Linked DNA regions of Homo sapiens: all the other regions are reported to be linked to region 1. The links are microRNA targets in miRTarBase. Many come from high-throughput screens and were not tested one by one. Region 1 holds a microRNA gene; each other region holds the end of a gene's coding sequence.
The links. Region 1 holds the annotated microRNA hsa-miR-625-5p (AGGGGGAAAGUUCUAUAGUCC, at 3,781-3,801, opposite strand). A microRNA usually pairs through its seed, bases 2 to 8, with sites in the 3' UTR of a target mRNA and lowers its output. Matches are read on the target gene's strand: a 7mer-m8 pairs with bases 2 to 8, a 7mer-A1 pairs with bases 2 to 7 and ends in A, and an 8mer does both.

Region 2: miRTarBase lists TMEM86B as a target of hsa-miR-625-5p. Seed matches in the 3' UTR shown: 7mer-m8 at 1,553-1,559.
Region 3: the mRNA of FOSL1 is a reported target of hsa-miR-625-5p. Seed matches in the 3' UTR shown: 8mer at 3,493-3,500.
Region 4: the mRNA of KIAA2013 is a reported target of hsa-miR-625-5p. Seed matches in the 3' UTR shown: 7mer-m8 at 551-557.

Annotation. Positions count from the first base shown.
Region 1 is chr14:65,466,693-65,474,916 of GRCh38, reverse strand. It overlaps MIR625 (microRNA 625), which reads right to left and starts at 3,815; the gene lies at 3,731-3,815. The region is part of intron 2 of FUT8 (fucosyltransferase 8); the gene reads right to left. It also overlaps the pseudogene RPL21P8.
Region 2 is chr19:55,221,606-55,228,529 of GRCh38, reverse strand. It overlaps TMEM86B (transmembrane protein 86B), which reads left to right. Exons shown (of 3, transcript NM_173804.5): 2 at 93-339; 3 at 967-1,892. The coding sequence ends at 1,349. It also overlaps a transcript of PPP6R1 not described here. Among named protein-coding and RNA genes, the nearest start is that of TMEM86B, 3.7 kb to the left of the region's middle.
Region 3 is chr11:65,889,333-65,897,556 of GRCh38, forward strand. FOSL1 (FOS like 1, AP-1 transcription factor subunit) reads right to left here. Exons shown (of 4, transcript NM_005438.5): 2 at 7,477-7,674; 3 at 4,682-4,789; 4 at 2,717-3,964. The coding sequence ends at 3,554. CCDC85B (coiled-coil domain containing 85B) reads left to right here and starts at 1,341. Exons shown (of 1, transcript NM_006848.3): 1 at 1,341-2,303. The coding sequence starts at 1,452. The coding sequence ends at 2,060. RefSeq lists a silencer at 1,132-1,611 and enhancers at 2,752-2,801, 2,842-3,001, 4,286-4,790, 4,893-5,002.
Region 4 is chr1:11,917,586-11,920,585 of GRCh38, reverse strand. KIAA2013 reads left to right here. Exons shown (of 3, transcript NM_138346.3): 3 at 254-995. The coding sequence ends at 271. Among named protein-coding and RNA genes, the nearest start is that of KIAA2013, 7.3 kb to the left of the region's middle.

The DNA.
Region 1 (8,224 bases):
AGAAGTTCCAGACCAGCCTGGCAATACAGCAAAATAAAAATAAACAATAAATCTTATCTTCCCTGAACAAATCCACAAAAATGAAGGATGAATATCAGTTGAGAAATTTCACTACTTTTACAATAAAATGAACTGTGTAGTATTTTCTTCTCTCAGGCTCACCAAGGTATTAGGAGAAAGATGGTTATTTTTCAATCTTGGCAAATAACTTGAAGATGACAAGAGTAAAAAAGCCACATGGATTTATAAAATCTCTAAGAAATAATAAGGCTAGAAGATTAGGTACAACAGAAGATCTTTTTTAATTTTTTATTTATTTATTTATTTTTGAGACAGAGTTTTGCTCTTAGAGTGCAGTGGCACAATCTCGGCTCACTGCAACCTCTGCCTCCCAGGTTCAAGCGATTCGCCCAGCCCCATGAGTAGCTGGGATTACAGGTGGGAGCCAGCACGCCTGGCTTTTTTTTTTTTTTTTCAGTAGAGACAGGTTTTCACCATGTTGGTCAGGCTGGTCCCGAACTCCTGACCTCAAGTGATCCGCCCGCCTCAGCCTCCCAAAGTGCTGGGATTACAGGCGTGAACCAACCTGCCTGGCCTCTTTTTTTTTAAATATCTTTTTTATTTCAATAGCTTTTGGAGTACAAGTGGTTTTGGGTTACATGGATGAAATGTATAGTGGTGAAGTCTGAGATTTTACTACACCCATCACCAAAGTAGCATACATTGTACCCAATATATCGTTTTTTATCCCTTATCTTCTTCCTATTCTCCCCGCGTCTCAGTCTCCAAAGTCTATTTTACTATTCTGTATGCCTTTGCGTACCCATGACTTAGCTCCCGCTTGTGAGAACATATGGTATTCAGTTTTGTATTCCTGAGTTACTTCACTTAGAATAATGGCCTACAGCTCCACCCAAATTGCTGCAAAAATGTTATTTCATTCTTCTTTATGGCTGAGTGGTATTACATGGTGTACATATACCTGTATAGAATAGAAATGCTTAAAACAATCCTCTAATAGCTTTTACAGATGAGCAAGTAGGGTCAGAATCATCAAATTCACCATCTCAGTGACACCAGAAGTTTCTAGAAGTCTCTAGTCATACTGATTTTCCACTTAAATTGCTGGACCCAATTCAGTTCTAAACATTAGTTTAGGGAGAAGTCAGAAGAATGCAGAGAAGTCTAATAATCCTGACAAAGATGCCAAATTAAGCCTACAAACATTAAATTGGTAAGGAAAAGTTCAATTTGTGAGTAAAATATTACAAGAATTAAACACAACATATTAAATTATTGGACTACAGTCAATTTACATCCTAAGTATGAGTGTCTAGAATACCAAGTTTGGCACATATAGGAGATCATTTTTATCACCTAGTCACAAAACTACAATTTTTGGGAATAAAACTGTGTAAACTGCCGTGGCAATGTAAGTCCAAAAGCATTGTTTTCTAATTATATAAGTAAGAAAAAATTTCTAATCCCGTTTTTCAAGATCCAATAAAACTTAATTAGTCCTGTGAAAGAGAACACAAAATGCTCCCCAAATGAAGGTGAGAGATAGAAAAGACAGACAAAAAGAGAAACAGAGAGAGAGACAGACTTCTGAAAACCCAAAGATATGGTACAAACATGGAAAAGCTAAATGTACAAAGATATTACAGCAATACGTACAATAAACTATCAGTCTGACCAACCTAACAGTACCTCACTCAATGAGAAAACATTGTTAGAAATGGGAAACATTTACACTGTTAACTGAAATAAGGCACAAATTTGAAAAGAAATTATTATTATAACTTTGTAAAAAAAATTGTGTATGAAAAAGGACTAAAAGGCACATATACCAACATGGTAACCACAGTTATGTTAAGATCATGGGACTGCATGTAATTCTTTTACATTCAATAATAATAATAAATAAAAGTTATAAATAAGTTGTCTAAATTATCTATAATGTGATCTTTTCAATGTAAAGTTTTCTAAAGAAAATAAAATTATATCTTACATTTAATTTACAACAATGTCTTTTTCTACTTCAATTTCTACTAAGATATTTGAGCACTAAATTCATTATATGAACTAAGTTTTTTACCATATCACAAAAAAAATAAGAATAAACATTACCTTATTCTGTGCTCATAAAAATAATTAGTGGGCAATCTACTAATTAAGAAATTCAATGTAAATGAGTCATCAAATTAATTGGTTCCATAAATCCAAAGTATCAGCATAGGGCTTTAATAACCATCCTCAGCATCATCAGTATACTTATCAGAAGTGCAATTAGTAAAGCCTGACATGACCCTACACCCAAAAAGGCTATAAAAATAAAGTTGTTTTTTTTTTTACAGTATAAGAATATAAAAATAAACCTTTGGCCATCAACATAGAAAACAAAGGCTGCTGTTGCCCTCAATCTATACTTGAAAACAGAATAGTAAATAGCCTGAGTCTATGCTATCACTTAGATGATTGTCCCTCCTGTTGAAATTTGATCTCAATGTTGGGGGTGGGGCCTAATGGGAGATGTTGTTGGGCATGGTGGGGAGGGGTCAGAACCCTCAAGAATAAATTAATGCTCTTCCTCAGGCATGCTTGAGGTCTCACTCTATTTGTTCCCCCAAGAGCTGGTTGTTAAAAAGAGCCAGGGCCCCTCCTCCCACCCTTTTCTCCTCTCTCATTTTGTGCACAAGCTGGCACCTCTTTGCCTTCTGCTATCAGTGGAAGTAGCCTAAGGCCCTCACTACAAGCCGATCCTGGTGCCATACTTCTTGTACAGCCTGCAGAACTGTGCGGTAAATCAAACTCTTTATAAATTACCTAGCCTCAGGTATTCCTACATAGCAACACAAAACAAGACAAGGCAGTCAATTCATCAATAATAAGAATCAGTCCTATGATCAACTTCCCTCTGGAGAAGTTTTTTAATCTTTCTTGCAAATTAGAATATATTATCCCCAAAATGTGCAGACCTGATGTCAGAAAGAGATAAAATTCTTAATGAACAATACTGCCAAATGAGATAAAGGATACTGTAATAAGTCTTTTGACTAGTTACAAAAGCATCAAAAATGGTCAAAAAATAACCTTAAGTACAGTTGTAAAGAGCTTGTAATTCATCACTCCCAACCTCACGACAAGAAAAAAAGCTGGGGGTAAAAAAAAAAAAACTGATAATCCAACTCTTCTTAGAGCCATCAGAGAATTGAGGTCAGAGGGCAAACTGCTGCTCTAAAACCTGGAGAGACAAGACAGGCAGATAGAGAATCACAGTGTGCAGGAAGCAGAAGTCCAGGAATACAAGCTCTCAACTGAAGCCAGCATCAGTAGGAACACTTGAAACAGTAATTGTGGACTAGCTTGAGAGTTAAAAACTGTAAGGGGACCAGTCTTACAGGGGTCCCCATACTTTCCTGAGTTTTACCTCCAGGAGCCCTACCAGGTTCTCATGGTAAAGATCTGAAAAAAAACCCCTCCTGCTTGCAGCAGGGGAAGAAGAAAAACCATTTTGAAATACGCCAGGAACTTTATTTCTCTTAAAAGGTATTCCAGAAAAGGAAACTATTTTACCAGAACCTAACCAACTGGCTTTTAGATTGCCTAACCTACTACGGTTTTACAGTGCCTAACCAACCGGAGGGAAGGGAAATACCCAACTCCAGCCCCATCTATCCTTTGACCGAGAAAAAGAGACAGTTACTCAACTCAGGCTCACAGTTGGTAGAGGGCAGAGGGATGAGGGGGAAAGTTCTATAGTCCTGAGATCTAATTACAGGACTATAGAACTTTCCCCCTCATCCCTCTACCCTTACCACCACATCAGTACAGCTCTTGTACAACACAGGATTACAACTTAAAAACCTGCAAGCCTCAGACCCCATTTAAGGATTCTTTACAAAAACCCAAAGACAACAGGGCAGATAAAAGCAAGGACAGTAGAAGAAATTTTAGCCTCTAATAGTGATGGCGGTGGCTTTCTGGTACATGGACGGCACAGGGAGAGGCGGACAGACCCCCTCCCTCAACAGCCCGCCGCCCTCTGTGCAGCACAGTCAAGCAGAGAGCAGACCGATGCAGAGCTGAGGCTGAGCTTCAGGGGCCTGAGGCAGGAAGTGGGAGCGGTGCCCACTTCAGGGACCAGCCAGTGACACAGCCACTGCGCCCACCCCACTGAGGGTGCCAGGTTCCTGGGCCTCAGGAGGAGGCTCTGTGCAGGGCTGCCCGGGGCTACATCCCCAGGGTCCACCCCACATCAGGCGACTGCTGAGCCTGCCACTCCCAACAGCCAGGCCGGACAGTTATCTGCTCTGCCTGGGCCACTGAAGCGCCAGGGCAACTGGGGTAGCTCCCGGCGATGTCACCCCTGCCCCGGATCCCAGCCCAGGTCCAGCAAGGATCTGGAGCCCCTGTCTCAGGCTGAAAGGGGGCGGAGCCAGGGCTGCATGCTCCACAGTGCCAGTGGGAGCCAGGAGCAGGCAGCAGCCCAAGCCACCCAAGCCTGGGTGGTAGACCCAGGCCTCCATGTGCTCTTGGGGACTGGAAACAGGCAGGAGCCCTGTCCCCCAACCCCATACAGCTGCAGCTACCCAAGTCAGGGTTGTGGACCCAGGCCTCCGTGTGCTCTTGGGGGCTCAGGAAGGCCCCCCTTGCCTTTGCAGGCTCGGAAATGCCTGTTCCCGCTGCCACTTCCCGCACCGGCTCCAATGTGGCAGGTTCTCAGAGTGGGGTTGGAGCCAAGCCTGGATATCATCACAGCCCAACAGGATATGCGCATGCTCAGGCCCTGCCGCCTAGGCCCCCTCTGAGGAAGCTGAGGTGGAGAGCTGCTCCATGCTGGCAGGCAGGTGCCCCTTGGCACAAGCAGCCTGGGAGCCATGGAAAGTGGCAGGAAGCAGACAGGCTCCTGGGTGGAAGGGGGCACGTCCCCAGATAGACCCCACCTTCAGGCCAGGGAGGGCCTGAACGTTGGGGACCGGGCTGCCAGTCCCGCAGACTGCAGTGGGGGCTTGTGGTGCCTTTTCCAGCCCACCCATGGCCACCGATGTACCAATTGACACACTTCCTCCCCACTGAGGTCCATAAAAGCCCCGAGATCAGCCAGAGCAGGGCAGAGGCCAGAGAGACAGCCAGATGACTAGCTGCAGAGAGGAGCTATCGTCTCTGCTGAGAGCTGGGAAGTCAATGGGGACCTGCCTGCAGAGAGGAGCCACTCACTCCAGGGCCTCCTCTCTGCTGAGAGCTGAACACTGGATGAGACAACCTGCCTATAGAGAGGGGCTGCCCTCTGCAGCTCTCCTCTGAGCTGTTCTAACACTCAGTAAAGCTTCTCTTTGTCTTGCTCACCCTCCACTTGTCTGCATACATAATTCTTCCTGGACACAGGACAAGAACTCGGGCAAAGGCGCCACTGGCCACAGAGGTTTCTAGACAGAAAAGCAACACCTTAAAGATCCCGTAACATTTGCCTCCGATACCACAGCCAGAACAAACACTAAACACAGCCTGACTTCTAAACAGATAAACATAAAACCTCACACTAAAGGCCTATTTACCTCAGTTCCTTTTACCTGATACATTCTGTCTGGCTATGAAAAAAAATTATGAGGCACTATAAAGGCAAAAAATACAATCTGAAGAAACAAAGCAAGCCTCGGAAACAGACTCGGATGTGGCAGAAATTTTTACCAGGAATTATCAAATTATCACCAGGAATTTTTTTTTATATATATGTTTTGAGACAGGGTCTCACTGTTACCCAGTCTGGAGTACAGTGGTGATTCACAGCGCACTGTAGCCTTGAACTCCTAGGCACAAACAATCTTCCTGCCACAGCTTCCCAAGCAGGTAGGACTACAGGTGCATGCCACCACCATGCCCAGCTAAGTCCTTTTTTCTAAGACCGGCCTGGGCAACATTGGAGACCCTGTTTCTACGATTTTTTTTTTAATCGCCAGGCATGGTGGCACACACCTGTAGTCCTGGCTACTTGAGAAGCTGAGGAGGGAGAATCACTTGAGCCTAGGAGTTCAAGACTGCAGCGAGTTATGATCACGCCACTACTGCACTCCAGCCAGGGTGACAGAGTGAGATCCTGTGGAAAGAAAGGAAGAGTAAAGAGAAGGAAAAAACAGTGAAGAGGGGAGGCGAGGAAGGGGAGTGTACAAATCAATAACACTGTAACAGGAAAGAATGTCTTTAGTAAGAAACACCAAACCTGGAAGTTCAGAGAACACCAAGCAAGATAAATACCAAAATATTTACATAGGCAAATGATAGTGAAGCTGCAGAAAATAAGACAAAGAGAAAACTAAATCAAAAGCAAAACTTTAGTTTTTTCCTTATTAACTTTAAGACCAATAAGATATCTCGAAAGAAGCAAGAGGTAAAGAAAAAAATCAACACACACAGAAAACATCTTATCCACAGAGAAATAAAGAATTAGATCAAACTTTCTCTTCAGAAACCATGCAAGCAAAAAGAGTGAAGTGAAATATTTAGTGTTAAAAAAAAAAAAAAAAAAATCCAACCTTTCGGCCGGAACCACCATCTTCCAGTAATTCGCCAAAAGGACGAACACAAAGGGAAAGAAGAGAGGCACCCGATATATGTTCTCTAGGCCTTTTAGTAAACATGGAGTTGTTCCTTTGGCCACATGTATGCGAATCTATAAGAAAGGTGATATTGTAGACATCAAGGGAATGGGTACTATTCAAAAAGGAATGCTCCGCGAGTGTTATCATGGCAAAACTGGAAGAGTCTGCAGTGTTACCCAACATGCTGTTGGCACTGTAAGCAAGTTGTAAACAAACACGTTACTCAGCATGCTGTTGGTATTGTAAACAACTTGTCAACAAACAAGTTAAGGGCAAGATTCTTGCCAAGAGAATTAATGTGCGTATTGAGCACATTCAGCACTCTAAGAGCCAAAATAGCTTCCTGAAACACGTAAAGGAAAATGATCGGAAAAAGAAAGAAGCCAAAGAGAAAGGTACCCGGGTTCTACTGAAGCACCAGCCTGCTCCATCCAGAGAAGCACACTTTGTGAGAACCAGTGGGAAGGAGCCTGAGCTGCTGGAACCTATTCCCTGTGAATTCATAGCATAACAGGTGTTAAAAAAAATAAAAGACCTCTAGACTGGCTGGGCACGGTGGCTCACACCTGTAATCCCAGCACTTTGGGAGGCTGAGGCGGGCAGACCATGAGGTCAGGAGTTCGAGACCAGCCTGGCCAACATAGTGAAACCCTCTCTACTAAAAATACAAAAAATTAGCTGGGCGTGGTGATGGGCGCCTCTAATTCCAGCTACTCAGGAGGCTGAGGCAGGAGGATCGCTTGAACCCAGGAGGTGGAGGTTGCAGTGAGCCAAGATCACACCACTGCACTCCAGCCCGGGCGACAGTGTGAGACTCTGTCTCAAAAATAAAAAAGAAAAGAAATACAAAAAATTAGCCAGGTGTGGTGGTGCGCACCTGTAGTCCCAGCTACTTAGGAGGCTGAGGCAGGAGAATCGCTTGAACCCGGGAGGCAGTGGTTGCAGTGAGCCAAGATCGTGCCACTGCACTCCAGCCTGAGTAACAGAATGAGACTCCATCTCAAAAAAATAAAATAAAATAAGACCTCTGGGCTGTTAAAAAAAATAAAATAAAATACCAAACTAGAATGCCTATAGAATCCCAGCAAAAGTATCCTCCAAAAGTGAAGAAATAAAGACTTTCTGAAATAAAAACTGGGAGAAATGAAACCCAATAAACATGACTTGCAAGAAATGTTAACAGAAGTTATTCAGAAAGAAGGAAAATTATATAGATCAGAAATATGGATTACAAAAAGAAAGGAAGAGTGTAGAGGAAAAAAATAAAGGTAAAACTAAATCTTTTGTTTTTCTGATCCTTAATTCATCTAACAGATAACAACTTGTTCAAAATAATAATAGCAACAATATATTTAGTGACTGTAAATTATGGAAAAGTAAAACAAATAAAAGTAATGTTATAAGGAATGGGAAAAAGGAACTGACAATACTAAGTTGTAAGGTATTTGCACTACCCATGAAGTGGTAAAGTGTTATTTAAAAAGTGAACTTGGATCAGTTTAACTGTGTAATTATTGCAAACTGTGGGGCAACAACTAAAAAATAATTTCATTTTATTCTTTTTTTTTTTGAGACAGTCTTGCTCTGTCGCCCAGACTAGGGTGCAGTAGTGCGATCTTGGCTCA
Region 2 (6,924 bases), not on the chromosome of region 1:
CCAGGTGGGGGTGGGACAGGAGCCATGAGATCTGAGTCCCAAGAATGGGGGCTGGGCTGGGTTTCGGCTCAGTAGCTCCCCACTCCCCAAAGCGCCCAGATGTCTGCAGGTGGCTGAGCCCCTTCATCCTCTCCTGCTGCGTGTACTTCTGCCTCTGGATTCCCGAGGACCAGCTGTCCTGGTTCGCTGCCCTGGTCAAGTGCCTGCCCGTCCTCTGCCTGGCTGGGTTCCTGTGGGTCATGTCCCCAAGCGGGGGCTACACCCAGCTCCTCCAGGGAGCCCTTGTGTGCTCGGCTGTGGGGGACGCTTGCCTCATCTGGCCGGCAGCCTTCGTCCCTGGTGAGTGGAAGGTGCTGTGACGCTTTCCAGATGCCCGTGTGAGAGAGGCCCCAGCACTTGGATGGGAGCCTGGGTGCAGAGGGCTCCTGTGAGAGCTCCAGTGGTCAAAGGCACAGTGGGGGGCGCAGCCGTGACCGAGGCAGCTCACGCTCCAGCGAGGGGTGGGGGCAGGCGGTGTTAGGGCAGTAGCTGAGGTGGCGCAGAGGGCAGTGAGGACCTGCTGGAGGTACTGCAGTTTGAAGCAGGGTTGCTGAGGAAGGCCTCACTGAGGAAGTCACATTTGGGCAGAGCTGAAGGGCTGTATGCCTGTGTGGAGGAAGGGCGAGTGTAAAGGCTCCGGGGCAGGGACGTGTCAGGTGCTTGTAGCCCAGCAGGCCAGGGTGGCTGGCGCAGAGTGGCTGGAGAGCTGGAGGCCATGGGGCTTTGGAGGCCAAGGGAAGGTGGGGCCTCCTGGCAGTTCTGAGCAGAGCAAGGATGGACACTGCATGTGGGGAGACCTGCAAGGAGGCTCGGCCAGGGTGGGGCCTGGTGCTCTGGGATGGTCCTTCTCTTAGGCCCTGAGGGGTGACCTCGGGGCCATTCCCAGGATGGGCCTTCCTCACTGGTACCCCACCCCTCTCCCGCCAGGCATGGCCGCCTTTGCCACCGCCCACCTCCTCTACGTCTGGGCCTTCGGCTTCTCTCCCCTGCAGCCCGGCCTGCTGCTGCTCATCATCCTGGCCCCTGGCCCCTACCTCAGCCTTGTGCTCCAGCACCTCGAGCCGGATATGGTCCTGCCGGTGGCAGCCTATGGGCTGATCCTGATGGCCATGCTGTGGCGCGGCCTGGCCCAGGGCGGGAGTGCCGGCTGGGGCGCGCTGCTCTTCACGCTCTCTGATGGCGTGCTGGCCTGGGACACCTTCGCCCAGCCCCTGCCCCATGCCCACCTGGTGATCATGACCACCTACTATGCTGCCCAGCTCCTCATCACACTGTCAGCCCTCAGGAGCCCGGTGCCCAAGACTGACTGACTAGGGAGCTTGAAGGGCCGGTGTTCAGGCCCTCTCCTCCTGCAAGGACCTGGGCCTCCCAGCCCAGCCCAGCCTGAGAAATACCCTCAGCAGCGAAGCTTCCTGACGCCTGTCTGCAGGCGCCGCTGCCGCCGTCGCTTCTGGCTGAAGACGTTTGAGGACGATTTGCGGAATTCCAAGTCCACTACTGGGTTCCAGCTGCCTTCCCCCGGTTCTGACTCCAGATCCCTGGCTCCTCAGCCAGGCCCACATGGAGCCCTCCCAGCCACCAGCCTGCCTCCATGTTCACTGTCGGCCCCACAGCCTGCCCGCCCCCTGCTGCTGCTCTGAATCCGTTTTCCCTGTGGGTGTGGAACCGTAGATGTTGCTGTTACCGTAGGAGAGGCCTCGGGGAGGGTCATGATTGTGATAAACCATCGCGGTTAATGACAGCAGAAGGTTCTTTGTCGCTCCCCATGGACCAGGCCTGGTGCCCAGTGGGACCCTCCATGGCCCTCTGGTGGGGGGATTCGGGGGGATAAAGTGAGGATTGTGCAGAACTGAGCCAAGAGGACTGTTTGGTCTTTGTGTTAGTTTCCTGAGGCTGCTGTCACAAATTACCCCAAGCCAGATGCTTTGAAACAAGATGAATGGACTCTCCTGCAGTTCTGGAGACCCAAAGTCCAAAATCCGGGTGTTTTCCGGCCCATGGTCCCTCTTGAGGCTCCAGGGAAGAATCCGTCCTTGCCCTCTCGGCTTCTGGAGGCTCCCGGGAATCCCTGGCTTCCATCGGCCTGTGGCTGTGTCTCTCCGTCTTCATGTGACTGTCTTCAACTGGCAGCCTCCCTCTGTGTCCGCATCCTTCTAGGGACACAGGTCATTGGATTTAGGGCCCACCCTAAACCCAGGGTGATTCTATCTCAAGATCCTTAAGTATGTCTGCAAAGCCCCTATTTCCAAGTAGTGTCACCTGCAGAGGTATCTGGGGTTAGGACTTGGACATATCTTTCTAGGGGATACAACCCGCTGCAGTCACATGCAGTATCGGGAGAAGGGTGGGAGGCTTGAGGATGAGGGGTCTTGGAGGAGGGAGGGCGGCAAGGGGGTAGGAATCAAATGGGAAGGAGGAACCCAGCTGTGCTCCTTGTCAAGGCTGTGTGACCTCGGCAAGCTGCTATCCCTCAGGTCCTCAGATTCTGCATCTGAAGACTTGACAGGGTCCAAGCTGCTCTCCAAGACCCTATTTGACTTCTGCATCCATGATGTGCTTTCAGTGACTCATAGCAGAGGGGCGACTTCTCCATCCATGGTTAGCATTTAGAGACTCTTACAGCAGAGAGGCGACCTCTCTATCCATGACCTGCATTTAGGGACTCTTAGAGCAGAGGTGACTTCTCCATCCATGACCTGCATTTAGGGACTCTTACGACAGAGAGGGGACTTCTCCATCCATGGCCAGCATTTAGGGACTCTTACAGCAGAGAGGTGACTTCTCCATCCATGACCTGCATTTAGGGACTCAGATGTGAGAGTACAGAGGTGGGAAGGGAAGGTGGGGAGCCTGGAGGACGGGGACCAGGAAGGAAAGTGAGGACAGGAATCCACAGTTGGAGTGAGGAGAAGTGGAAGCTGAGGGATTTCCTTGAGGAAGGGTCAGGCATGAGGAGGATCTGAAGGATTGGACTCAGGTTCGAAACCTCCACTTCCTCCTCATCTCCTACCCTCTCCACTCAGACCTGGCGAAAGGTGGGGAAAGAGGAAATTGCGCAGTGAAGTGTAGCAGGAGGGACGGGGGTCTGGGTGTGCAGATTCCAGGGGCACGTGGGGCCTGCAGACATGAGGGGTTCCTGGAGGTGAGGGAGGAGGGGCTGGAACCTGGACTCCTGGGTCTGAGGGAGGAGGGGCTGGGGCCCTGGACTTCTGAGTCTGAGGGAGGAGGGACTGGGGCCTGGACCCCTGAGTCTGAGGGAGGAGCTGGGGGCCTGGACTCCTGAGTCTGAGGGAGGAGGGGCTGGGCCTGGACTCCTGAGTCTGAGGGAGGAGGGGCTGGGCCTGGACTCCTGAGTCTGAGGGAGGAGGGGCTGGGGGTCTGGACTCCTGGGTCTGAGGGAGGAGGGGCTGGGGGTCTGGACTCCTGAGTCTGAGGGAGGAGGGGCTGGGGACCTGGACTTCTGGGTCTGGGGGAGGAGGGGCTGGGGGCCTGGGTCTGAGGGAGGAGGGGCTGGGGGCCTGGACTCCTGCGTCTGAGGGAGGAGGGGCTGGGGTCTGGACTCCTGAGTCTGAGGGAGGAGGGCCTGGGGGCCCGAACTCCTGGGTCTGGGAGAGGAGGGGCTGGACTCCTGAGTCTGTGGGAGGAGGGGCTGGGGGCCTGGACTCTTGAGTCTGAGGGAGGAGGGGCTGGGCCCATAATCCCTGGTGTTTGGGGAACATTCTGGCTTTTGGTCCCTGGGCTCTGTGGGGTCGGCAGTCCAGAGCGACGGGACGCTGCTCTCCTGTCGGCATCCAGCAGCCCCAGCGTCGTGTCCCTCCTCCCTGATTCTGGTCCCCCGACGACCTTTCATCTGACTTCTCAGAGGTCTGCTTTCTCATGATCTGATTCGTGTTTCTCTAAAGCGGGACTCTCGGAGGTGCTGCGCACATCCCTCTCAGGCTCCTTCCAGCCCTGCCGGGACCCAGACCTGGGGCAAGGGGCAAAACGCCGGCTCCATCTTCCCTCCCAAGCCGGGGTGGCTGGTGGGGATGAGGCGGGGTGGGACTCAGCAGCCTTCATCCCGATCCTGCAGGTCAGACCACCGTGGGTCTGATTCCCCATCTGGGCCCTCCCCAGGCCCTCGGGACCACGACAGAGGCCACAGCAGCAGGTTAGTGACCCCATCAGCCTCCATCCTGCACGTCTAGGAAGGGCCGTGGGATTCCGTCTTCTGTTTGCCGCAGAGGCTTCTACCCATGTCAGCCGCCAAAGCAGACAGAATCGTGAGTGTGGAGGCTCGGACCTCCAGCTCCATCACCCTGAGCTGGGCAGCCCCAAGGGCCCAGACCGGCAGACTTCCATCTACTGGGTCCAGGGGCATGGCCAGCGGGAACACAAGCACGTCACACTGCTGGCTCGTGGTGGAGGGCTTCAGCCTGGGACCCTCTACACCACCTCTGTGTGGGCCAAGAAGAAAGGAGTAGGTGGCCCCAGGGACGTCCTGAGCATGTCTACAGGTAAGAGGGGCCACCTTTCCACTGCCCAGCAACATGTGCGTGTGTGTGCACGTGCACTTGTGTGTGCATGTGTGTTTGCGTGTGTGTGCGCGTGCGTGCGTGTGCACATTTGTAAAAAGTGCCAGGCTGTGCACTTTATTCTCATTAGAGCCACAAACAAACTTTATCAAATGACTCTCTCCTTTCCACATTCCCAAACTAGTCCCTGGCCTGGTCACACCGGCTCAGACCACCAGCTCCCTCACCCTGAGGGCCCCGCAGGCCCAGACTCCAAGACCTGCCCCTACTGGCTCTGCTGGGCCAGTGACTCCTCAGACATCAGGGTGCCTGTGGAGGGCCTGGCTGCAGGGACGCAGTACCCCAGCATGTGGGCCCAGAAGCATGAGGTCAACAGCCCCAGCCAGACGCTCACAGAGGCCACGGGCGAGGGGTGAGAGCACTCTGGGCTTGGGGAGTAGGAGGCCTCAGGAGGCCTCTGGCATCGGCCCCACTGATAGGGTGCATCCTTCCAGAGCAAGCAGGGCTGTGGGAAGGAGGGGATGCTTCCCTTTGCTCTGGAGGCCCAGGGACTATGGGGTGTGGTCTGTGAAGCAGGTTCACTGTGCACTGGTTACCAACTTGCCAGAGTGATGAGACAGAACGCCACACGCAAAAAGTTACATGAAGTGGGCTTGTTTCTCACAGATGGGCAGCAAGGGACAGCAGAATCCCAGGGTCCGTTGTAAGCTGGTCCCCCAAGGCTTAGGAAAGTGGCCTAGGGAGGATAGGGTCACAACTGTGTGTGCCTCACTTGTATGGCAGCTGAGGGACCCCAAAAAGTACCCAGCCCTGGGTTTTCTACTCTGGGGGAAACCTGAGTCACCGGGCTCAAGCATTGAAGGGCATCCTGTTTCTAGGGCAGGCAGGAATGGAGCCCAGGCCGCCTGGCCAGTCCCTCCATATCTCCGGATGTTGCATTCCCAGCACATTCTACTGTTACTCTTGAGAACTACAAGTAAGAGACAACTGGGTCTGTTTAAGGCCACTCAGATAACCTTCCTGCAGGAACCCTGACCCCCTTCCCTTCCTTTCCTTACCCGGCCAGGTCATGGATCTGAGGATACAGGCTCAGACCCTGAGTTCTGTTACACTAAGGTGTATATCCCCCCGGGGCCCAGACCCCCACACCTACACCTACTGGGTCCAGTGGGCAGGGACCACGGCCCCCAGTGGGACCAGAAGTGTGGCAGAGATGGGGTTGTGGTGGAGGCCCTGGAATCTGGGGCTTCATAAACCTTCATTGTGTGGGCTGAAAGGCGAGGTGGCTCATGCCTGAAATCCCTGCACTTTGGGAGGCTGAGGCGGGTGGATCACCTGAGGTCAGGAGCTCGAGACCAGCCTGGCCAATACGATGAAACCCTGTCTCTACCAAAAATACAAGAAAATTACCTGGGCGTGGTGGTGCATGCCTGTAATCCTAGCTACTCAGGAGGCTGAGGCAGGAGAATCACTTGAACCCGGGAGGTGGAGGTTGCAGTGAGTCAGGATCGCACCACTGTGCTCCAGCCTGGGCGACGAGCAAAATTCCATCTCAAAAAATAAATAGTCGGTCACGGTGGCTCACGCCTGTAATCCCAGCACTTTGGGAGGCCAAGGCAGGCAGATCATGAGGTCAGGAGTTCAAAACCAGCCTGGACAACATGGTGAAACCCTGTCTCTACTAAAAATACAAAAATCAGGCATGGTGGCACATGACTGTAATCCCAGCTACTCGGGAGCCTGAGGCAGGAGAATCGCTTGAATTCGGGAAGTGGAGGTTGCAGTGAGCCTAGATCGTGCCATTGCACTCTAGCCTGGGTGACAGAGTGAGACTCTGTCTCAAAATAAATAGCCTGGTGTGGTGGCTCACGCCTGTAATCCCAGCACTTTGGGAGGCCGAGGCAAGCAGATCACCTGAGGTTGGGAGTTCGAGACCAGCCTGACCAACAACATGGAGAAACCCCGTCTCTACTAAAAATACAAAACTAGCCGGGTGTGGTGGTGCATGCCTGTAGAATTGCTTGAACCCAGGAGCCGGAGGTTGTGGTGAGCTGAGATCGCACCATTGCACTCCAGCCTGGGCAACAAGAGCGAAACTCCATCTCAAAAATAAAATTAAAAAAAAATAAATTTTCTGCATCTTAGCAGGTTCTCCTGTCTCCCCTCCAGTTTGTACCTCCCTTCCCCAAGAGTGACCAGTCTCCTGATCTTTATCATCGTAAATTAGTGTAGTCTGTCCTTGAAACTTCTCTAAGTGGAATTATACAGTATGTAGTTATTTGATTCTGGCTTTCTTCACTCAACATTGTGGATGAAATGTGGATCCATGCTGGGTGTTTTTATTTTTATTGCTGTGTACTATTTATCGCAT
Region 3 (8,224 bases), not on the chromosome of region 1:
CCTTGCTCTTGCTCTTTGACACCGTTACTAATCTCCCTGTTTATGTCCCCTCCCCGCAGGGTCCGGCCCACACAGATCAGCCCAATCTTTTTAAATACATTTTTTTTTTCGAGACAGCGTCTCGCTCTGTCGCCCAGGCTGGAGTGCAGTGGCGCGATCTCGGCTCACTGCAACCTCCGCCTCCCGGGTTCAAGCAGTTCTCTGCCTCAGCCTCCCGAGTAGCTGAGATTACAGGCTCCTCCCACCACGCCCGGCTAATTTTTGTATTTTTAGTAGAAACGGGGTTTCACCATCTTGGCCAGTTAAAGGCATATTTTAAAATGTTACTCCCTTGCTTAACATCCTTACAAATGTTACTCTCTTGCTTAACATCCTTAGTGGCCTTTGGAAATGCTCCAACCTGGTACTGGAAGTTCTTAAGAATCTGGCTTTTACCTACCTTTGAAGCCTCGCTCTCTCTCTCTTAGCATTTTCTCGACACATCTGCTTTTCAAAAACCAAGCTATCCTCATTGTTCCTAAAGCAGCTAGGCTCTTTCGGGCACCAGTGTCTTTCACTATGTTATTCTCTCTCCCTGAAATAGCTCTTTACTTGGCAAAGTCCTATGGATCTACCAGAGCCTCTTGGATAGCATCTCTTTTGGGAACCCTCTTAAGGACCCTCAGACCATACTCCTCCCGGATTTATTTCTTGCTTAACACAGCTTGACTTCCCGGACAGACTGCGACCTCCTTGAGGATGGAATCGGTATTTTGGTTAAATTTATTTCTGCATGGGCCTTGCACATAAAAAACGTTTATTGAACAAACGAATCCTGTATGTTCCTCCCCCCAGGCAGGAAACGCTCCCTGGGAGGGAGGGTAGTCTATTGGTGAGCTAGGACGTTTGGACTCAGGGTTCCGAGGAACCAGGAGCGATCCTTAGTGGGCCGAGACTTCCGAATTTGATCAAAGGTAAAGAGGGACTGGAGAGCGGTCCATCTGACTTCTGTGGGGGATGGGCAGGAGTCAGGGGCGGACGCCTGAATCTTGTTTCTCAGAAGAGCCGAGAGGCCTAGGCTCAAGCTTGGGGCGATCCGGTACTTGGAGGTTCGAAGCTCCTAGTTTCGGGTTGAGACCGATGTGGAGGGCGATGACGCGCGGGTTCCTTGACATCGAGGATCAGTAACACCCGGAGTGGGTGGGGAACGAGGGGGGCGGCCCCTGAGCTCAGGCCCCGCCCCTTTCCGGGGACGTTTCACCGGATTGGCTGTCCTTCCATAACGACATGCGGCCCCGCCCCGGCGCGCGCCCCGCCGCGTGCCCAGCCCGGGTAGCTGCTGCAGCCTACGCTGCCTCGGCCACTGCCTGCCGCGTGCGGAGCCGGAGCCCGAGCCTGAGTGGCGCCGGGCCCGACGTGGGGCTCCTGGGCCGCGGCGGCGGGCGGGCGATGCTCCAGAGGCCTGACCAGCCATGGAGGCCGAGGCAGGCGGCCTGGAGGAGCTGACGGACGAGGAGATGGCGGCGCTAGGCAAGGAAGAGCTAGTGCGGCGCCTGCGGCGGGAGGAGGCGGCGCGCCTGGCGGCACTGGTGCAGCGCGGCCGCCTCATGCAGGAGGTGAATCGGCAGCTGCAGGGCCACCTGGGCGAGATCCGCGAGCTCAAGCAGCTCAACCGGCGTCTGCAGGCAGAGAACCGTGAGCTGCGCGACCTCTGCTGCTTCCTGGACTCGGAGCGCCAGCGCGGGCGGCGCGCCGCACGCCAGTGGCAGCTCTTCGGGACCCAAGCATCCCGGGCCGTGCGCGAGGACCTGGGCGGCTGTTGGCAGAAGCTGGCCGAGCTGGAGGGCCGCCAGGAGGAGCTGCTGCGGGAGAACCTAGCGCTTAAGGAGCTCTGCCTGGCGCTGGGCGAAGAATGGGGCCCCCGCGGCGGCCCCAGCGGCGCCGGGGGATCAGGAGCCGGGCCAGCACCCGAGCTTGCCTTGCCCCCGTGCGGGCCCCGCGACCTAGGCGATGGAAGCTCCAGCACTGGCAGCGTGGGCAGTCCGGATCAGTTGCCCCTGGCCTGTTCCCCCGATGATTGAAGGCACTGCTTCCTCCACGCCGACGCCCGCCCGGATTGCTCCCCGAGCCCCGGGACCGCTGTGGACCTCGGGACCTGGACGCCGTCCTGGCTGCGCAGGAGGGGCCGCTGGCATGGACTAAGAAATCCTGACACCAAGAAGGGCCCCTCGCTCTTGCTGGCAGGGCAGCAGGGGGACTGAAGGCTGGAGCGGAGGGACTTGCTGGGGGTTGGATTGGGGGTAATAAACCCGGACGGAAGCGGAGCCCACGGCCTGGGCAGCGTCTGTTTGGTACTCGCCGGGGTTGGGGCGAGGGTGGGGTGCTGATACAGGGTACAATTCCCATCCAGAAGGACTGCAGAACTAATGATTCCCCCATTACTTCGAGCCTGGGGTGGGATGCGGGGCAGTGGTAAACCAGACTTCCCCCATCGGGCGCCGGGACCGGCCTTAATCCAGCCCCTGAAGTGGCTCCAGCTCCCTTCCCGGCTCCTTCCTGTCCAAGACAATGGGGCAGGAAGCAGGTGCTGGGGGCCTAGAACCACTCGGCCGCCTCCTCTGAGGCTGGAAGGGGGCATAACAGCGCCCCTCCGTGGCACACGCAGCAGCACTGTGGGCCCCCACGGGGAGAGGGGCGGTAAGCCTCTTCGCTTTTACCCCAGAGGACTGTCTCCCCTCAGTCCCGGAGATGAGGCCGAGCGGATGTAGCCCCACTTGTCAGATAAGACAAAGTCCAAAAATATCAAAGAATTTGTCCAAGGTCATGCAGTGAGTCTGTAGAGCTAAGGCTGGGACCTAGGGCTCCAAATACTCTCCCATTGGCCTCTGGGTCCAGTGAGGCACTCAGGCCACAGCTTCAAGCCTTTTATTCCATTTTGGTAGGTTTGTATAAAAATACTCTCTTTAGGAAAATAAATAGCAGCTGCCCTCGCTGTGGAGGCTTGGATTCCCTGGAGCTGAAGGCTTCTCAAAGCTGAGATCCGCAGATCAGCTCATCACAGAAGCCAAGGGCGCCTCCTGAGCTGTGCGGTTCAGGAGGGGGCGGCAGAATGGCCTGGTCCAATCACCTGCTGCTGCTGGCAGTGGGGCTGGTGAGTTAGTGTTCTAGGTGGGTAAAGTGGCACCTTCTGTCAGGAGATAGGGTTGGGTGGATCACAGGAAGAGGGTGATGGAGAGTGTGGCAGTGATCTGGAAGGGGTTAGGGCTCCAGAGGACCTCTAAGGATCTACAAAGTCTCTGGGCTGCCAGGATTCCTCTGGCACAAATGGGAAATATTTTGTCTCTGATTTAGTGCAAATTGTGCTAGAGAGGCCAGCTCAAGAGAAACAGTGGGCAGCTTTGGTGGCCCCAAGCTGGCTCTACTGTGAAGCACAATATGGTCAGTCTCATTAGAGGGATGGAGAAGAAGTTGCTGGAGTTGGATGTGGGATACTGTCCAGGCCAGCTGGACCGGTGGGGGAAGGGGAGGAGACATTGGCTAGGGTGGCATCTGCAGGGAGTAGGGCTCAGGCGCCTCACAAAGCGAGGAGGGTTGGAGAGCCAAGGGGGTCAGAGGATGGGTCTCCGCTGCTGCTGCTACTCTTGCGATGAGCTGAGGCACAAGGCTCAGGAGTGCTGGGGTAGGTGAAGACCAGGCTGGGGGTGAAAGGAGTTAGGGAGGGTGTGGTCATGAGTGTGGGGGTGTGCAGTGCCTCAGGTTCAAGCACAGGCCCTGGGGAAAGGGAGATACAAGGTACAGGGCGGCAGGGGGCTGGTGGGCTGCTGGTGCCACTGGTACTGCCTGTGTCCCCCTCCTTGGCTCCTTCCGGGATTTTGCAGATGGGTCGGTGGGCTTCCAGCACCAGCTCTAGGCGCTCCTTCTGCTTCTGCAGCTCCTCAATCTCTCGCTGCAGCCCAGATTTCTCATCTTCCAGTTTGTCAGTCTCCTGTAGAAGATCAGGAGAGGAGTCAGAAAGGTGAGGGCTGAATACCCCAGAGCCGCAGACGTTTGGACTCAGGGTTCTGAGGAGCTGGGGTTGGGCGGGGGGAGAGGGGGGGCAGTGGAGAGTCCCCAGCAAGTCTGGACTACAACTCCCATAAGCCCCTGGGAGAAAATGGGCACAACTCCCATCAGGCCCAGACGTTTTAGGAGATTGCTGGCACCAGGCAGTGACTCCGGCCTGTAATCCCAGCACTTTGGGAGGCTGAGGCGGGCGGATCACTTGAGACCAGGAGTTTGAGACCAGCCTGGCTAACTTGGCGAAACCCCGTCTCTACTAAAAATACAAAAATTAGTCGGGTAGGGAGGCAGGCGCCTGTAGCCCCAGGTACTCAGCAGGCTGAGGCATAAGAATTGCTGGAGCCTGGGAGACAGATGTCACAGTGAGCCATGAGCCGAGATCTCATCACTGCACTCCAGCCTGGGTGACAGAGCGAGACTCTGTCTCAAAAAAAAAAGGAGATTGCTGGCTGAGCTTCAGCTCTGCTGTGAGTGAGACATGCTGCAGCCAGTTTCTAATCAATTTTTCCTCATCATTTTCCCAGAAGGACTGCCCCTCAGACAAGGAGCTAGGATGGTGAGGAGGGGGCTACATATACTGGGGCTCTGGGGGCTCTGGGAGACAGGGTCCCTCTGAGCTCGGTGGACCAGGGCTGGTGCTCACCGCCTGCAGGAAGTCGGTCAGTTCCTTCCTCCGGTTCCTGCACTTGGCCGCAGCCAGCTTGTTCCGCTCGCGCCTTACTCGGCGGCGCTCCTCTTCCTCCGGGCTGATCTGGGGGTGAGACCCGCAGTGAGGAGGACCCTGGGCTACTGGCTGCCTGGAACTCGCCCCTCATGGTGGCCCAGTGGTAGGACCCTGGCAGAGGTCATGGCAGGGCCCCCTCAGCCGGTGATTTAGGGATCACTGCACCCAACCAGTTCCCTGCACTGAGGCGCTGTCTGCTTTGATTGGTAAAATTTCCTCCTCGCACCTAGCTTTAGTGCACATTCCTCTCCCATAATGCCCTCCCCCTCCGCAAACCCTAACCCTCCTCATCTCCCAGGACTCAACTAAGATGCTCCTGCCTCCAGGAAGCCGTCTTATTCCCCAGCCAGAAGTGACCTTTCCTTCTCAGCACCCTCTTTGCAGGACCCTCATCCTTCTGGATCTGTGGACAACCAAGTCTCCTCTTCCATGAGCTGTAAGCACTAGGAGGGGCTAATGAGTGCTGCTGATTAAGTTGCAATTTATTGGAAAACTACTATGTGCCAGCCAAGTACTTTACGTAGATTCTTGTTTTTCACTGAGAACATGCAAAGATTTTATTTTATTTTATTTTATTTTTTTTAGACAGAGTCTCACTCTTTCCCAGGCTGGAGTGCATTGGCCCAATCTTGGCTCACTGCAACCTCCACCTACTGGGTTCAAGTGATTCTCGTGCCTCAGCCTCCCAAGTAGCTGGGATTACAGGCATGTACCACCACACCTGGCTAATTTTTGTATTTTTAGTAGAGACGAGGTTTCACCATGTTGGCCAGGCTGGTCTTGAACTCTTAACCTCAGGTGATCCACCCTCCTCAGCCTCCCAAAGTGCTGGGATTACAGGCATGAGCCACTGTGCTCGGCCTTTTTTTTTCTTTTTTTTTTTTGTGTAGTGACGGGGTCTCACTGTGTTGCCCAGGCTGGTCTGGAACTCATGGGCTCAAGGGATCCTCCTGCACTGGCCTCCTAGAATGTTTGGATTACCAGGGGGAGTCACCACAGCTGGCCTCTTTTTTAAAAAAACATAGATTCTTTTTTTTTTTTTTTTTTGAGACGGAGTCTCACTCTGTTGCCCAGGCTGGAGTGCAGTGGTGCCATCTCGGCTCACTGCAAGCTCCGCCTCCGGGGTTCACGCCATTCTCCTGCCTCAGCCTCCCGAGTAGCTGCGACTACAGGTGCCTTCCACCACGCCCAGCTAATTTTTTGTATTTTTTAGTAGAGACACGGTTTCATCATGTTAGCCAGGATGGTCTCGATCTCCTGACCTCATGATCCACCTTCCTTGGCCTCCCAAAGTGCTGGGATTACAGGCGTGAGCCACCATGCCTGGCCTTAAACTAGATTCTTAACGCAACTTTCCATGAAAAACTGAAGCCCAGAGAGGATAACTTACTTATGGTTCCAGAGCAGGACTTAGAACCCATAGAACTCACTCACTCTATTCCACATTGAGTGACAGGCCAGATGAGAGAGACCATTTCACCAAAAGGATCCAACTCACAGCTCACAGCCCTACCTGGAGAACCCAGGATCAAAGGGTCACCCTCAGGACCAGGCTGAAGGAAGGACGCACAGGAGGGTTTACCCCTGGCCCGCTTCTGCGGCTCATACCACAGTCCCTCCTCACCACAAAGGCCAGACATTCTGTTCTGGGAAACCTGTCTCTGGCTGATCTCTCACCTTTCCCAGGGCCCTAACCTCTCTCCCCATCCTCTACCTGCCGACCAAGCTTTTTAACCTCATCCCCTGTAGTCTCCCACACCAAAATGCCCCAGGGAGAGGAAAGATGAGCCACTCCTTTAAAGACTCGCCATCTCTTACTCACTTATTTTGGTAAGGGCTTTGGGGAGCCAAGAATTGTCAGTTCCCTCTACTTTGAGCCTTCTGTTAGCTTCCAGTGAGACAGCGTGGCTTGGTGATTAGTTTTGGGGGTTTTATTTTATTTTGTTTTTTCGGTAGAGACAGGGTCTCTCTATGTTGCCCAACCTAGTCTTGAACTCCTGGCCTCAAGTGATCCTCCTGCCTAGGTCTCTCAAAGTGCTGGGATTACAGGCATGAGCTACTGCACCTGGCCCTGGTTTGGTGGTTAGGATCTGACTTTAGAGTTGTATAGACCTGGGGCCAAGGCCAGTCCTGTGTCATTACTCACTACTTGTGTGATCTTGGGCAAGTGACTACCCTTCTGTGCCTTCATTTCTTTGGTGGAAGATGGGGAAAACCAGAGTACATTCCCCAGAGAGATTTTGTGAGGATTAAATGAGACAGGGAAACTGAGACTGAGGGAGTAGCTGAAGGGAACCCTCTTGTTCCTGTTCTCTCCCAGACAACATAAGCGCCCCCTCTATGCATGTCAGCAGGTGGAGACCCCCTCACCATTCCGTGTGCGCACCTTACATGTTCTTGCCTCCGCCTCCATCCTTGCTCCTGCCACCCCCGCTACCTGGAATGTCCTTTCCTTCCTCTCTGCCTCTGCCAGTCCTACCCATCCTTCTAGGCTAATATGCCACCTTTTCCAGGAAGCTTTCCCTGATCTGGAAGTGACTGTTGTACCCTCTGGGCCTCCCGTGGGGCTCCTATCACTTTCAGCCTTGGGCAGTAGTCACCTGTAGCCTACCTTACCCCCTCCTAAGCCTGTGCTCTCCTTTCTGGCAGGAGCTTCTCTGCACCCTAGCACTCCTGGGCGGGGTCGGAACCACTGCAATGCCTCTGTGCCTTACCTGTTCACAAGGCCTTCGACGTACCCCTGGAGGCGGCCCCAGGGCCCGGATGACTCCTGGCCGGGGTTGTGGGGGGCTGTACTGAGGGTAGGTCAGAGGCCTGGGGTAACTGCTGGGCCCCAGGAAATGAGGCTGTACCATCCACTGCAGCTCCTGACTGCCACTCATGGTGTTGATGCTTGGCACCAGGTGGAACTTCTAAGGAATAAGAAATGGAAGGCCACAGATGAGGTCCGTGTGGATTGAGGGGCTTCCACTGGGCAGAGGCTACACTGCTGTCTACCTTCAATGTACAGGCTAGCTCTGGGAACAGAAAGAGCACAGCTTGGCAGTCAGAGACTGACCTGGTGGCAAATCCCTGCTCATAAGCTGTGTGGCTTTGGGGCAGGTCACATAACCTCTCTGTGCCCCCATTTCCCCATTAGAACTAACATTTATAAAGCACAAACTGCCAGGAACTGTTCTAACCACTTTACAAATACTGACTCATATCATTGGCACAGTAATATCTTCATTTTCTTTTCTTTCTTTTTTTTCTTTTTTTTTTTTCAGATGGAGTCTCACTCTGTTGCCCAGGCTGGAGTGTAGTGGCACGATCTCAGCTCACTGCAACCTGCGCCTCCCAGGTTCGAGTGATCCTCCTGCCCCAGCCTCCTGAGTAGCTGGGATTATAGGCGTGCACCACCATGCCCGGCTAATTTTTGTATTTGTGGTAGAGACAGGGTTTCACCATGTTTGCCAGGCTGGT
Region 4 (3,000 bases), not on the chromosome of region 1:
AATGAGCCAAACTACCTTCATGGGGTACTGACCGATCTCTCCTTGACTTAGGCTCAAGCTGGGCCATGCCAGAGTGGAGCCAGTGAACACTCAGCTCCAGAAGGGCCCAGGCCACTGAGTCCGTGGTAATTCTGCAAGGCTGGGTCAGAGCCAGGGTGTGGTGCCACTAGGGTTGTCTCCGTAGCCTATTTCTATAGCTGGCCACTGGGGTTGGCAGTGAACAGTAATCACACTTGTTTTGTGAATTGAACAGGAAGATCCCAGTGTCTGAGTGAACTAACAGTCCTGCTTTCAGCCACCATTTGCACAAGACACCCAGCACTGAAAGTCCCGCTGCCAGGAGCAAGGGATCCTTTGGAAGCACCCGCCCTTTGTGCCTTGTTGGGGGAAACCGGTGACGCAGAAGTGAGTGTGGATACACCAGAGTTTGCATTGGAAGGAATGAGTGTCACGTGGGGAGGGAAGGGGCCAGTGGACCTTTTGTAAGCTTTCCACTCAATAAAATGAACCTGTATGGCAAATACTTGAAATGGAACTCACTCCTTCCACTTTCCCCCTTTCTTCTGTCCCAGGAAATAGATCATCTTTTGAAAAGACTCTTGTCTAGGAAAAGTTGTGTCCTTTTCCTAATTTAACGTGTTCTTTCTTAATGAAGTTTTAATTTATTTTTGTTGAGATTTTGCTAGATGGCTTTTGCATCCCCTGTAGATGGTGAGTGTTGGCGGTGATGTCCATCTCGGCGTTCGGAGGCCCCACGGTCCCGAGGCTGGGCCGGGGCCCCCCAGGGTGGCTGTGCTGCTGCCTGTAGGAGGGTGCGGGTTGTGCTGTCATCCTCGGGTTTGCACGCCCTTTTTTAGGAGCCTGTGGACATCTGTGGTTTTGTACTTTGGGGCTTCAGGGGAGGTGTTTAACTTTCTAGTGATTGATGATTGTCAGGTTTTGAAATACCAAAGCTTTTTTGTTCTGTTTTTAAATAAATATCTTTCAAACTTTCACGACCGGTTTGTGTGTGGTTGAAACCTGGAGACATGCACCACGTCTGCCCTCAGCACTAGATCTGTCAGAAGCAGGACACCCACCCGGCCCTGCTGTCACAATGCTATTCCTTTCTGGTATGTTCTACCTCTCTTCAAAGGAGTCTGCCCAGAAGATGTGTTGTTTGCCACCTTTCTGCTCGCCAGGGGGTTGCTGAGTGGCCCTGCTGAGTGGGTTGCTTCTGGCATTACCCTAGCTCCTTCCCTGCTAAGATGCCCTCTCCCCCACCTGCCCTAAAGAGCCAGGGTTCTCCTGCCCTGGGTTTTGCTGGCTATAGGACGTCAGCAAGACAAACCCTGAGTGGTTCTTCTCCAGGTTGTCTGCTGAAGCCACCATCAGATGCCTCCCCTCTGTGGGGAGGAGAAGGGTCCACTCTGGGGACCAAAAAGGGGCCGAGCCGGGCATGGCAGTCCACCTGCGGGGCTGTCCTCAGCGTCTTGGCGTTTAGACTTTCTCTGCGTTCCCAGACAGCATTTTAAGCAGCATGACTCACCGGGAAGCCTGGTCTGCCTGCAAAGCAGCCAAATGTCTGGCCCACAGCCGATGGTTATGAGAGTAAACTCAAGCTCTGCTTTTAGTGGCACTGGTCACCCACTTACTTCTGTCCATGCAGCACCTTCTCCCCTGGCTCATGCAGAGCTCTGACATGTGATCTTCCAGCCGTGGGCCACGGGCTGGTTCACCTATTACAGAGTGGGAACCTCCTGGGGTGCAATTGGTGTCATTTACAGTGTGACATTAAACGGAAAGCTGTTAGACCACAACAACTGCAGCTCCCATTCCTTCTTGAACTTGGAACTGGGCATGTTGTAGGCTCCCATAAATGTAAAACAAGACCGGGCGTGGTGGCTCACGCCTGTAATCCCAACACTTTGGGAGGCTGAGGTGAGCAGATCACCAGAGGGCGGGAGTTCAAGACCAGCCTGACCAAGATGGAGAAACCCCATCTCCACTAAAAATACAAAATTATCCAGGCGTGGTGGTGCATGCCTGTAATCCCAGCTACTCGGGAGGGTGAGGCAGGAGAATCACTTGAACCTGGAAGGCGGAGGTTGTGGTGAGCCGAGATCGCGCCATTGCACTCCAGCCTGGGCAACAAGAGCGAAACTCCATCTCAAAAAAACAAACCTTTGTATGTGGTGCCTGAGAAATACCTATCGAATGATTAGAATGTCAATAAACTGAGGTTTGTAAAGTACAGCTCTCATTAAGTGCTCACCATACGTGTTAGATATTTCACATCAACATGGCCTTTTGGGATGAAGAGGTTGCTGGGGGTTAAGATCCCAGTTTGAGAGATGTGGAACCTGGACCTCACACAGTGAATCATTTGTCCAAGGCCACGCGACCATGGAGTGACTGGAGTGCAAACTCTGCCTCGATGCCGGTGCAGGCTTGCTTGGATCCCCACACTGCCATTTCTCCCCATGGTGTGCGTCTGATGGCTTCTGTGGCATGGCTCAGTGTCCACAGGGCTTCCAGCTGGCCACCATGGTAGAGAGGAGATGCTGGTGGTCCATGGTGGAGCGGGCCAAGCAGTAACCCTGGTGGGTCCCATCTGCACGGTCCAGTGGAGGCTGTGGCTGCACAGAGAGCCTTTTTCTTTTTTTTCTTTTTGAGACAGGGTCTCGCTGTCACCCAGGCTGGAGTGAAGTGGCACGATCTCGGCTCACTGCAAGCTCCACCTCCCAGGTTCATGCCATTCGCCTGCCTCAGCCTCCTGAGTAGCTGGGACTGCAGGCGCCCGCCACCACGCCTGGCTAATTTTCTGTATTTTTAGTAGAGACGGGGTTTCACCATGTTAGCCAGGATGGTCTTGATCTCCTGACCTCGTGATCTGCCCGCCTCGGCCTCCCAAAGTGCTGGGATTACAGGAGTGAGCCACCGCGCCCGGCCACAGAGAGCCTTTTTCAAATTGCTTTTTCAGGGCCTGAAATCTGGTGTGGAAAATTTAATTGCATACTA